Homo sapiens: one gene and its partners. The protein of the gene in region 1 purifies or fractionates together with the protein of each later gene. This does not show direct contact. Each region holds a gene or a part of one and is shown in the gene's direction. Other genes may lie near its edges. The genes, in order: PLAC9, CUEDC1 and MACO1.

Region 1 (3,652 bases):
CTGGGCCCAAGTCTTGGTTTCTTTTAGCAGCACTCAGAGAAACCTTTATCCCTGATGGCTTTTTAGACCATGAGCCACCACGCCCGGCCCATATTTTGGAGTTTTTTATAAAATCACTTGAAGAATAGTTTTCTGCTGCTTTCAAAAATGATCAAAACCCGTGGATGGTTTTGAGTGAATCATACATTTTAATACAAATATTGGATGTGGTAAATTTATTATTCTATTATGTTGAATGTGGTCAAATATAATTAACCCCCAAGTGGCCAGGGTTGCTTTTCAAAGCAGAGTGTGACTTTGACAATTCAGAAGATACAGCGGCACCTTTCAGATGCCACTGAGAAAACATTTCTCAACCCCCAGCATGCAGAAATCATCTGTGTTGTGGCCCTTTCTTACTGTTTGGGTCCAGATACAAAAGGTCTCCCCATAAGGCCTGTAAGTAGAAGCACCCGTACTTCCGCCTCAGAGGATGGGACCCAGGGGCCACGTCTCTTTAACTGGGGCAGCCAGCCCAGCCGAGCCCTCCTCTGGGGCCTCCGGGCTCCACAGCAGCGTGTTCTCACCAGCACAGGATGCCCCACCCATGGCCACCATCCAGGGTGCACATCAGGCCCCTAGCAGGAGCCGGGCCAGAGAAAACAACGCAGCATCCAAGGAGGTCCATTTCCCAACTGGCAGGGCCTGGGAGAGCGGGAGGAAAGGAAGGAAGGGAGCCCTGAGGAGCCACAGCCTTGGCTGCTCAGGGTTAATCATCATAATCCTTCAGTCTTTTCCACTCCCCTTGTCTGAGCCACTGACAGCCCTGTGGTGCATGTGCGTGTCTACTATTTTTTATTCATTTATTTATTTTCTTACAAGACACAGTCTTTCACTGTCACCCTGGCTGCAGTGCAGTGGTGCAATCGTAGCTGACTGTAGTCTCAAACTCCTGGGCTCAAGCGATTCTCCCGCCTCAGCTTTCCAAATACCTGAGACTACAAGTATATACCACCAATCCTGGCTAATTTTTTTTTAATTTTTATTTTATTTATTTATTTATTTATTTATTTATTTATTTTTGTAGAGACAGAGTCTCACTATGTTGCCCAGAGTGACCTCAAACTTCTGGCTTCAAGCGATCCTCTTGCCTCAGCCTCCTAAAGCTCTGGGATTACAGGTGTGAACCACCGAGCCCAGCTCGTCTAGCTAATTCTTGAGGCCTCTCTGCAGCCTCCAAAAGACAGAAGAATTAAGGATGCGCTACACGGGGGAGTCAGGGCCTCAGGCCTACCCTACCCCATTTTATGTAAGAGGCAGCAGAGGCTCAGGGAGCAGAAGAAACTTTCTCACAATCCCACAATCATTAGTGGCTGAACCAGGCTGAGAAAAGGGGTCTCCAGCATGTTTTCTACCATGATGCGTTCAAGTCAGCGCTGTGGTGAGGATGCTGGCAGTACAATGTCAGGCCCTGCTCCAAGCTTGCTCTCTCAGATGCACTCTGTGGAGGCCCCGATGAGCTCACGGACAGTTGCTCCAGGGTGCACAAAGCACAGTTTTGTCCAGATGTGAAGGATTAGTGCTGAGCCATGTTGGGAGCGACCTCAGCCCAGCCTTTTCCCTGGAGGGGTTTTGGAGCCAAGTTAGACCTCATCACAGACACGTAGAGAACAGGGTGGTTTAGGCCAGTGGAGGGGAGCAGGCTCTGGTTGTTCTGACTTCCAAAGCAGCCAGACTCCCATTTGGCTGGCAGGGTCACACTGCATCCCCCTGGCCTGAGCCTTACACGGGAGAGTGGCTAGGGTCTGGGAGAGGGCAGGTGAGCCTCAGAGAAAAGGCTTGGCCAAAGGCCTCTGGACAGAGCCAGCAGGGGGGTATGTGTATCCACAGACTCATGACAACAGGCCCTCCCCTAGGACGGCCACTCTGTGGGTGACAACAGAGGCCCCCTCAGAGCTTTTCCTCTCCAAGCTGAGCAGCCCAGTTTCAGCTGAGAGAATTGAGTTAAAATTTGGAGTCCCAGACTGGGTGCGGTTGTTCACTCCTATAATCCCAGCACTTTGGGAGGCCGAGACAGGCGGATCACTTAAGCCCAGGGGTTTGAGCTTAGCCTGGGCAACGTAGTGAAATCCTATCTCTACAAAAAATACAAAACGTAGCCAGGCATGGTAGTGTGTGCCTGTAGTCCCAGCTACTCTGGAGGCTGAGGTGGGAGAATTGCTTGAACCCGGGAAGAAGAGGTTGCAGTGAGCCATGATTGTGCCACTGCACTTCAGCCTGGGTGACAGAGTGAGACCCTGTCTAAAAAAAAAAAAAAAAAAGAGGAGTCCCTTCCCATAGCCTCCTCTAGACCTGCTCCTGCCTCTCAAGGGCCTTCTCAGGATGTGGGGCCAGGATGGAGCATAGCCCCCAGGGGCCTCTCTCTCTCTGAATATTTTACATGAATGCCTGCAGCCCACAATGGCTGCTGCTTTCTGCTGACAACCTCGTCAGACAGCCAGCTTTTGTTATGGAACATTTCAAATCGTGCACACAACAGTAGACAGAATCGCTGAATGCACCCCCATTTGCTCATCACCCAGCTTCAACAATCAGCAACTCTCAGCCCATCCTGTTTGCTCTAAACATCCACGCATGCCTCTCCACCATCCCCACTGAGGCCTGGATTATTTACTTTGGAAGTAAATCCAAGACAGCACAGCCTTTCATCTGTAAATATTTCAGTATAGGTCTTTAAAATACTTGCATTAAAAAAATAACCAAAGGGCCATTATAATGTCCTCCTCCCTCCCCAGATTCAGCAATAACACCATTATCTTTTGAAGAGTATTTTCTAAGTTCAGTGGAGGGAAATAATGAAAAGGATAATTTGGAAAACAGATTGTTCTCCACAAAAGATGCTCAGAGTGGAAGGACATTTTGTCTCTGGTCCTGTTCTCATCTCTGAGTGGAAGTGCTGAGAGCTAGATAGAGTTGGAATCAGAAAATCACAGGGCAGGGGGTCCCCACCTTGCTGAGATGAGAACAGGAGGTCAGGGTGCCTGAGGTCCAGGCATTTGCAGATGGTGTGACCTTGGGGAAATCACTCAGCCTCTCAGAGTTACACATCCATCATCAGCTCTGTCCTACCTCAAGACCTGCCCCACTTCTAGACAACTGCAGATGGCCCCTTGGCCAACCCATCCAATACCAAGGCCTTACAGCTACAAGCATTGCACGTAGAGAGATCAAGTTCCATAACTCCCCCTATTGAGCTTTGGATGCCCGCATCCATGGCCACAGCCTTAATATTGTCACTCTCTGAAGCTGCTCGACCTCTAAAAGTTAAATTGCAATATTCCTTTTTTTTTTTTTTTTTTGAGACGGAGTCTAGCTCTGTCACCCAGGCTGGAGTGCAGTGGCGCGATCTCCACTCACTGCAAGCTCTGCCTCCCGGGTTCACGCCATTCTCCTGCCTCAGCCTCCCTAGTAGCTGGGACTACAGGTGCCCACCGCCACGCCCGGCTAATTTTTTTGTATTTTTAGTAGAGACGGGGTTTCACCGTGTTAGCCAGGATGGTCTCGATCTCCTGACCTCATGATCTGCCCGCCTCGGCCTCCCAAAGTGCTGGGATTACAGGCGTGAGCCACCGCGCCTGGCTAAAATTGCAACATTCTTTACCTCTTGTTCCTC
Region 2 (3,652 bases), on another chromosome or scaffold:
CCTCGGCCCTGACTCCATCTCTTTCGGTTTCAGGTGGGACCATCCGTGAAACCGGTGCCAGGATGCACCGGGGGTGTGGATGACCGGCCGCCCAGCCCCAGCACGGCCCGGTCCCGCATGCCACCGCCCCGCGAGGACCGCTCTCCAAGGGCTGCCTGGGGCCCCGCGCCCGTACTCTCCTAACCCGGAGCTCTTGGCAGCCCATTGCTGCCTGGCTACCCGGGGAGGAGGAGGCGCAGGAGTGAGCTGCCCGAGACCGCAGGGCAAGTAAGCGGCTGACGGCGGAAAGACCCTGGGGAAGGGGCTTTGCGGCCGGCTAGAAACATTTTCCCCAAGCGGCTCCGCAAAATGACCAGCCTGTTCCGCCGGAGCAGCAGCGGCAGCGGCGGGGGTGGCACCGCCGGGGCACGCGGGGGCGGGGGAGGCACGGCCGCCCCCCAGGAGCTCAACAACAGCCGGCCTGCCCGCCAGGTGCGCCGCCTGGAGTTCAACCAGGCCATGGACGACTTCAAGACCATGTTCCCCAACATGGATTACGACATCATCGAATGCGTGCTGCGCGCCAACAGCGGCGCTGTGGACGCCACCATCGACCAGCTGCTGCAGATGAACCTGGAGGGCGGTGGCAGCAGCGGCGGCGTCTATGAGGACAGCTCCGACTCGGAGGACAGCATCCCCCCGGAGGTAGGGGCGCAGCCCGGGTAATTCCAACCACCACTGGAGGACAGCATCCCCCCGGAGGTAGGGGCACGGCCCGGGTAATTCCAACCACCACTGGAACCTCTAAGAGGACCTGGGTTACTCCGCTATCTGGGTTCTAATTAGCAAGCAGCCTTACTTCCCCTAGGGAAAAGTACCATCCGTCAGTCACCTTATTTTATGGGCAGAAATCATGCAGTCATTCAACAAACACTGAGCGCCCACTCAGTGGTGTGCGAGACGTGGCACTAGACCCTGAGTCAGGAGGCATCAGAATCAAGGTGCTTGTTAAAAATGCAGGTGCCTGGGCCCCACCCCAACATACTGAACTCCACATCAGGCGTAGAGTCCGCTAGTGGCCAAGTCAGACCAAATTTCTGCCCTCCTGGAGCTCACAGTCCAGTGTGGACTAGAAGCGCGAGTCGGGTACTGACGGCCAGAGTGGTAAGTGCTCGATGGAGACGTGGAAGCAGCAGAAAGGAGTGACTTCCCAGAGGAAGCGATGGCTAAGCCGAAACCCTAAGCTGAGACCCAAAGGAAGAGTGAAGCCGGGGGAAGGGTGTGCAGGCAAAGGGAACAGCTTGTGCAGAGTCTGGGAGGTGAAATAGTGCCTCACTGGCTAGGGAACTGGCAGCAGGACCATCTGTCAGGGTCCTAGAGTGAGAGGAGATCAATGAGGTTGACAAAGCCCTGACGCTGAGAAAAAGAGTGCGGCTGGGGCCGGGCGAGGTGGCTCATGCCTGTAATCCCAGCACTTTGGGAGGCCGAGGCAGGTGGATCATGAGTTCAGGAGTTCGAGACCAGCCTGGCCAATATGGTGAAACCCCATCTCTACTAAAAATACAAAAATTAGCCAGGCGTGGTGGTGCGCACCTGTAGTCCCAGCTACTCGGGAGGCTGAGGCAGGAGAATCGCCTGAACCCGGGAGGCAGAGGTTGCAGTGAGCCGAGATCATGCCACTGCACTCCAGCCTGGGTGACAGAACAAGGCTCCGTCTCAAAAAAAAAAAAAAAAAAAAAAAGAAAAGAAAAAGAGTGCGGCTGTATCCTGGGAGCATAGCCACGGAAAGGGAGTGAGGAATCAGACTTGCCAGTTAAATCCCTCTGACTGTGGCCTGATGGAAACAGTAGTGAGCCATAGCCAAGCAGTCTCTCCAGGGAAGTGGCTGGAGAGAGGGGACCTGCGTACTGCATCAGTACCCACCTGCTGGAGGTTGTGAGTCCTTTCCAGTCCCACCCGAGTTCAGTGGACATCTGGCCACCCAGTATCAGCAGAGCCTGAGGTGCTTGGTGCAGAAGGATGAGGCACACAGAGCCTGTTAATCAGAGGGGTGTTGTCCACAGGGCCATCTGGGACATGCAGCCATGGACAAGACCAGGACCCAGCAGGATTTAACTCCACTCTTTATTGAGTCCCGACCCGTGCCAGGCATCATCCTAAGTGCTTTAGATGTATCATATCTTCTTTTTTTGTTTGTTTTTTTGTTTTTTTGAGACAGAGTCTTGCTCTGTCGCCCAGGCTGGAGTGCAATGGCGCGATCTTGGTTCACTGCAACCTCCACCTCCCAGGTTCAAGCGATTCTCCTGCCTCAGCCTCTCGAGTAGCTGGGACTACATGCATGTGCCATCATGACCGGCTAATTTTGTAGTTTTAGTAGAGATGGGGTTTCACCATGTTGGCCAGGCTGGTCTCGAACTCCTGACCTCAGGTGATCTGCCCGCCTCGGCCTCCCAAAGTATTGGGATTACAGGCATGAGCCACTGCACCTGGCCCGATGTGTCATCTCTTCTAATCCTCACAAACTTTGTGCTGTGGCATTATTATTACCCTTGTTCATCAGCCATCCTGCAGGGCAAAGTCTCCTTGCTTTTCCTCCTTAGTGGGTGCTGCTGAGACTTCCCCTAGAGGTGGAAAAGCTCTGTTGGCCAAGACATCTGGCTCATCCCTGTGTCATCTGCAGCACCCAGGACAATCCACGCACATAGCAAGCACTCAGGGAGTGTTTGTTGAATGAGTACGTGTTGCTGCTGTCTTTGTACAGTTTTCTATTGTCTCTCTCCTTGGGAGACCACTCCTTTGATCTGCTTGGAGTAGGTGGTGGAAGGAATATTGGAAAATATGGATCCTCTTTGTAGAAAGAAGGAGAGAGAGAGAGTGAGAGTATGCGTATGTATGTGTGTGTCTGCAGATACAGTTGACCATTGAACAATGCAGGGGTTAGGGGCAGTGAATCCTCCCCTTGCAGTCAAAAATCCACTTTTTAATATAACTTTTGATTTTCCCAGAAATTGACTGCTAATAGCCTATCGTTGACCTCAAGCCTTAACTCAAGCCTTAACATAAACAGTCGACTAACATATATTTTGTGTGTTGTATGTATCATATACTGTATTCCTACAATAAAGTAAGCTAGAGACAAGAAAATGTTAAGAAAATCATAAGCAAGACAAAATATATTTTCTACTCATTAAGTGGAAGTAGATCATCGTAAAGGGCTTCATCCTCATCTTCTCACATTGAGTAGGCTGAGGAGGAGGGACAGGAGGGGTTGGTTTTGCTGTCTCAGGGGTGGTGGAGGTGGAAGAAAATCTACCTATAAGTGGACCCACGCAGTTCAAACTCTTGTTATTTGAGAGTCAACTGTATATGCTTTAAGTGTGAACTGGAAGGAAAGCTCTCTGCAAGCTCTGACCCTTTCTGCAGTCTGATTTGCCCTGACAGTCTGGCAGGTAGGGTAGTATTTTCTCCTTTGTCCATGGCCCCCACAGTCCTATAGACCTCTGCAAGGCTTCACCACCCCCTAGGTAGGCCCTTGCTGTGTGTGCACTTCTGTTTTTCTAAGAATCTTGCTCTCCAAATTGAGCCCCCTCCCGGTACCCCTCCCCTCCCTTGGCAGTCTCCCCAACCCCCCACCTTTGGAACTCTGCCTGGGCCCATAGGCAGGCAGCTCCTG
Region 3 (3,652 bases), on another chromosome or scaffold:
TAGTGTAGTTTACAGATACTATTTACCATGTTGTTGCTATCACAGTTTAACGTGTGGTTAATTTTTTAAGGAGGCAGGAAATACTGTAAGATTTGGTGCAACTGTAAACAAAAGTTGAGTAGCCAAAACAAAGGGTCAGTTGCTGTTTGGTCTTGCTTTAAAAAATCCTGTTGTGGACTCACTTTTAAATCATGGGCTGCAGTCCAACAACTGTTACTGAGGTGACTGTCAAATGATATCATTTATTGTGAGTATCATGGCTGTCTTGGAATTCTGTTTCGGGGTGAGATGCAAGGAAAATTAATTTTAGACATTATGTTAATGTAATCTGCATTTATACATATAAAACATCATTTGAAAAGTGAAACATGCTATAGAAATATTTTAGTCCAGTTAATAATTAAAAATAGGAGAAAGGAAATAGGAATAGTGATCTTTTCATCTTACTAGGGGCTAAAGTTCGATGTAGTTTTAAAAAAATCTGACCCAGCCCAGAGCCTGACAGAGTCGACATTCAGTGTTCAATAAATGTTGAGTGAGTAAATTAATAAATGAATATAAGCTAGTCCATTTCATTCATGAAGTGCCTACGTTGTTCAGGGAATTGCGGAGGATACAGGATAACACATGGCTCATTGTCTTCAAGGAGTTTACAGTCTAGTAGGCCGTAGTAATACCATCTTAAATTTGTACAGTGGTTTAGAGTTTCCAAAGAACTTTAAGTTCTGTTCAAGTAAAAATATTTCTGTTGTGCTAAATTTTAGCTTACTGTTTTAGTGGTTCATCTGACACATTAACAGCTGTATTTTGCTCTGTGCTATTTTATGATAAAGTAGACAGTTGCCACTATATGAGGGAGTCTTTTCTATCTCAAATGAGATAGATATGAAAGTACTTTAAAAATTATGAACATAAGTTATTAAGTACCTAACTCTTATATTTCTAAGGTCCTTTGGTTTTCTGGGCTGGGTTCTCTCCTTGTGTCTGCCTAGACACATGTGCACCAGACACTCCCGATAGTAATATCTCATTGCAGGCAGTGATTTTCCAGGTGAGGTGAGGTTAGGGTACTATGTAGTTTTTAAAAGCCTTAAGGGGATTCTGTATGGTTTACCCCTACCTCTCACCCTGCCATACTTTCCACTCCCTTCCCTCAGAGAATTACTGACTTTATAATATAAAAATGAGGAGATAAGATGTGGTAAGTAGAAGAAGGAGGCAGAAACATTTATGTTTAAAGTATACATATATTCCAAATCGCTACAGTTAAATGGTTATTTATGCAAGTAAATATAATACGAATTTTAAGTAAGGTATATGTTTTAAGCTTCTGGGAATGATTTTATATCTGTGTTACTGGTGGCTGAAGGAAGTACCCTTTCACTGTGTATTTAAGACTGCTTCCTGTCTTCATGTACTGGATTCTGCTTGTAGTGCTGTGTGAAGCTTAGGCAGTGCAGTATTGTACCTGACTGTCATATTTTTGCAGCTTAATGCCTTAAAACTAGGACTAAGAACTCAGCACTGGTGTATATGTTATTATTTCCCATTTTTATTTCAGAGAAAAATTCTCTGGTCCTTGGGGCTCCTCAAAAGTGACTTTTTAAAGTGATTAAATTTTGCATTCTTCTCAACTTCCCAATTTCCTTTTTCAGACCCTTGTCTACATCTGATCTCCAGAGGTTTCATTTGACTGCTTTTTCTGCCTCCTTAATGATGTTTTCTAAGCCTAGTTTTAGACTCCTTTGGGCTATGCTTATTAAAGTCACTGCAGGCTGTCATGACCCTTGGCTGCCTTGATTGTACATGTGTTCTGCAACTGAAACCCCAGATACCTGTGTTGCAATCTCATAGCCTAAAAGCATTTTGGTAATCTTGGTAGGCTTTAACTTTAACAATCCTGGACCTGGCACGAAAGTGATAGATTCTGTATTGTTTTAGAGGAGTGTTGGGGAAGGAGAAATTGAAATGTTTTCACTAACCTGTGCAGTGAAGTGTTTATTAGCTAAACTCTTCTATTTGTGGTTTTCACAAAATACACTTTAAAAATCGGCCACACTGGGATGAAAAAGCACTTTCCTCCAACTTTCATTATGATTCTTCCTGTCTGAGCAGTCTTGGCAGTTTAGTTTCATTAGGTGTTTTGAAAATCCCTTTAAATTGCTGCTGGGTTGAGGAGGGGAACAGGAGAGAACGTGATTCACTTCACATTATTTGCTTAAAAGCTTCCTGTTTTATCATTGATAGTCTCCTTTTTCTTCACATCGATTCCTCATGGCCTCTCTTGAACCTCACTAGATTTAGAGATTGATCTTAATGGTAGGTTTAACAAATAATTATTTACATTTTCTTACTAGTTATATGCTTGTATATATCTCATGGACCCAGTCCATGTTCTGTAAGCATTTATGTTCCTAGAATCTTTTTCTTTGGCCATTTCTCCCAGATCTCCCCACTGATACTGTTAACCCTTTGGGGTTTTATGTATATAAAGTGCACTTTGTTTTATCTGTTTCTAGGCTACCATCTTGTGGAGTTTGGAGGGCAAGTAGAAATTTCACAAACATAGTTAAGTGAAATACTGTAATTAGGTTACTTTTCTTCATAAAATTTAGTGTGCTCTTCAGATATACTGATTAGTTTATCCCCAGGCTTACTAGATTTGGGCATAATTATTTTACTTGGCTCTTGCTCAAGAATTAAGTCCAGAAGAAAAAGAAGTTGGCTGTCCAGCAAGCTGCATAAGTAGGATGGTACATACAACAGTAGATACACATATCCTTGTTAGACTTTTTCCACTGTGGATTTCTTCAGATGCTTAAGTAGTGACTTTTCAAAGCCTCTCACCTTGCATCCTGGCAATGGAAGCTTGAAAAAAGTTAATCAACTTTTAGAGAATATTGAGGCTCTGTATCTTTAATTTGACATTTAACCGACATCAAATTGTCTCAGCTGATGAGCCTTCCAAGGCACTTGTCTTCCCTGGCCTTTGAAGACAGTCATAGTACTGACCTTGATTGCTTTATATTTTTTTCTCTGCTGCCTTTAAGGATGATATGCCCACTTTGAGTCATGGGATTGTGGCACCAAAAATAATGTATCCCTCACCCCATCTCCTCTGTTGCCTTCTCTTTTTCAGAGCTTTTGCATTTAGTGATTAAAATGGTGTGACTACTCCACTTTCATATATCTGTTCATATCACTGATGAGTTTGAGCTGTTTAGGACCGATCTCCCACTCAGCACAGAGGAGTGGCTAGAAATAATCTCATTCTGTTTTTGAATCATATTGTTACGTTGTTCATCTTCAAAACACTTTTTTTTTTTTTTTTGAGACAGGGTCTCATTCTGTCGCCCAGGCTGGAGTCCAGCAGCGAGATCACAGCTCACTGTATCCTTCATCTCCTGGGTTCAAGAGATCCTTACACTTCAGCTGACCGAGTAGCTGGGACCAAAGGCATATACTACCATGCCTGGCTTTTTTTTTTTTTTTTTTTTTTTGCGTTTTTGCGTTTTTATAAAGATGGAGTCTCGCCGTGTTGTATAGGCTGGTCTTGAACTCCTGGGCTCAAGTGAGCCACTCACCTTGACCTCTCAAAGTACTGGGATTATAGGCATGAGCCACCGCACCCACCCAACACTTTTAAAAACCA

What was found.
Region 2: the proteins of PLAC9 (region 1) and CUEDC1 purify together in Homo sapiens (affinity purification with mass spectrometry; one large-scale study listed by BioGRID and IntAct). This does not show direct contact.
Region 3: the proteins of PLAC9 (region 1) and MACO1 purify together in Homo sapiens (affinity purification with mass spectrometry; one large-scale study listed by BioGRID and IntAct). This does not show direct contact.

Annotation. Positions count from the first base shown.
Region 1 is NC_000010.11:80,135,632-80,139,283, forward strand, and holds part of PLAC9 (placenta-specific protein 9 isoform 1 precursor), read left to right. Parts: intron 1-3,652.
Region 2 is NC_000017.11:57,882,261-57,885,912, reverse strand, and holds part of CUEDC1 (CUE domain-containing protein 1), read left to right. Parts: intron 1-33; 5' UTR 34-348; coding exon 349-684; exon of another isoform or gene 685-741; intron 742-3,652.
Region 3 is NC_000001.11:25,433,822-25,437,473, forward strand, and holds part of MACO1 (macoilin), read left to right. Parts: intron 1-3,652. UniProt on the Homo sapiens protein: Plays a role in the regulation of neuronal activity.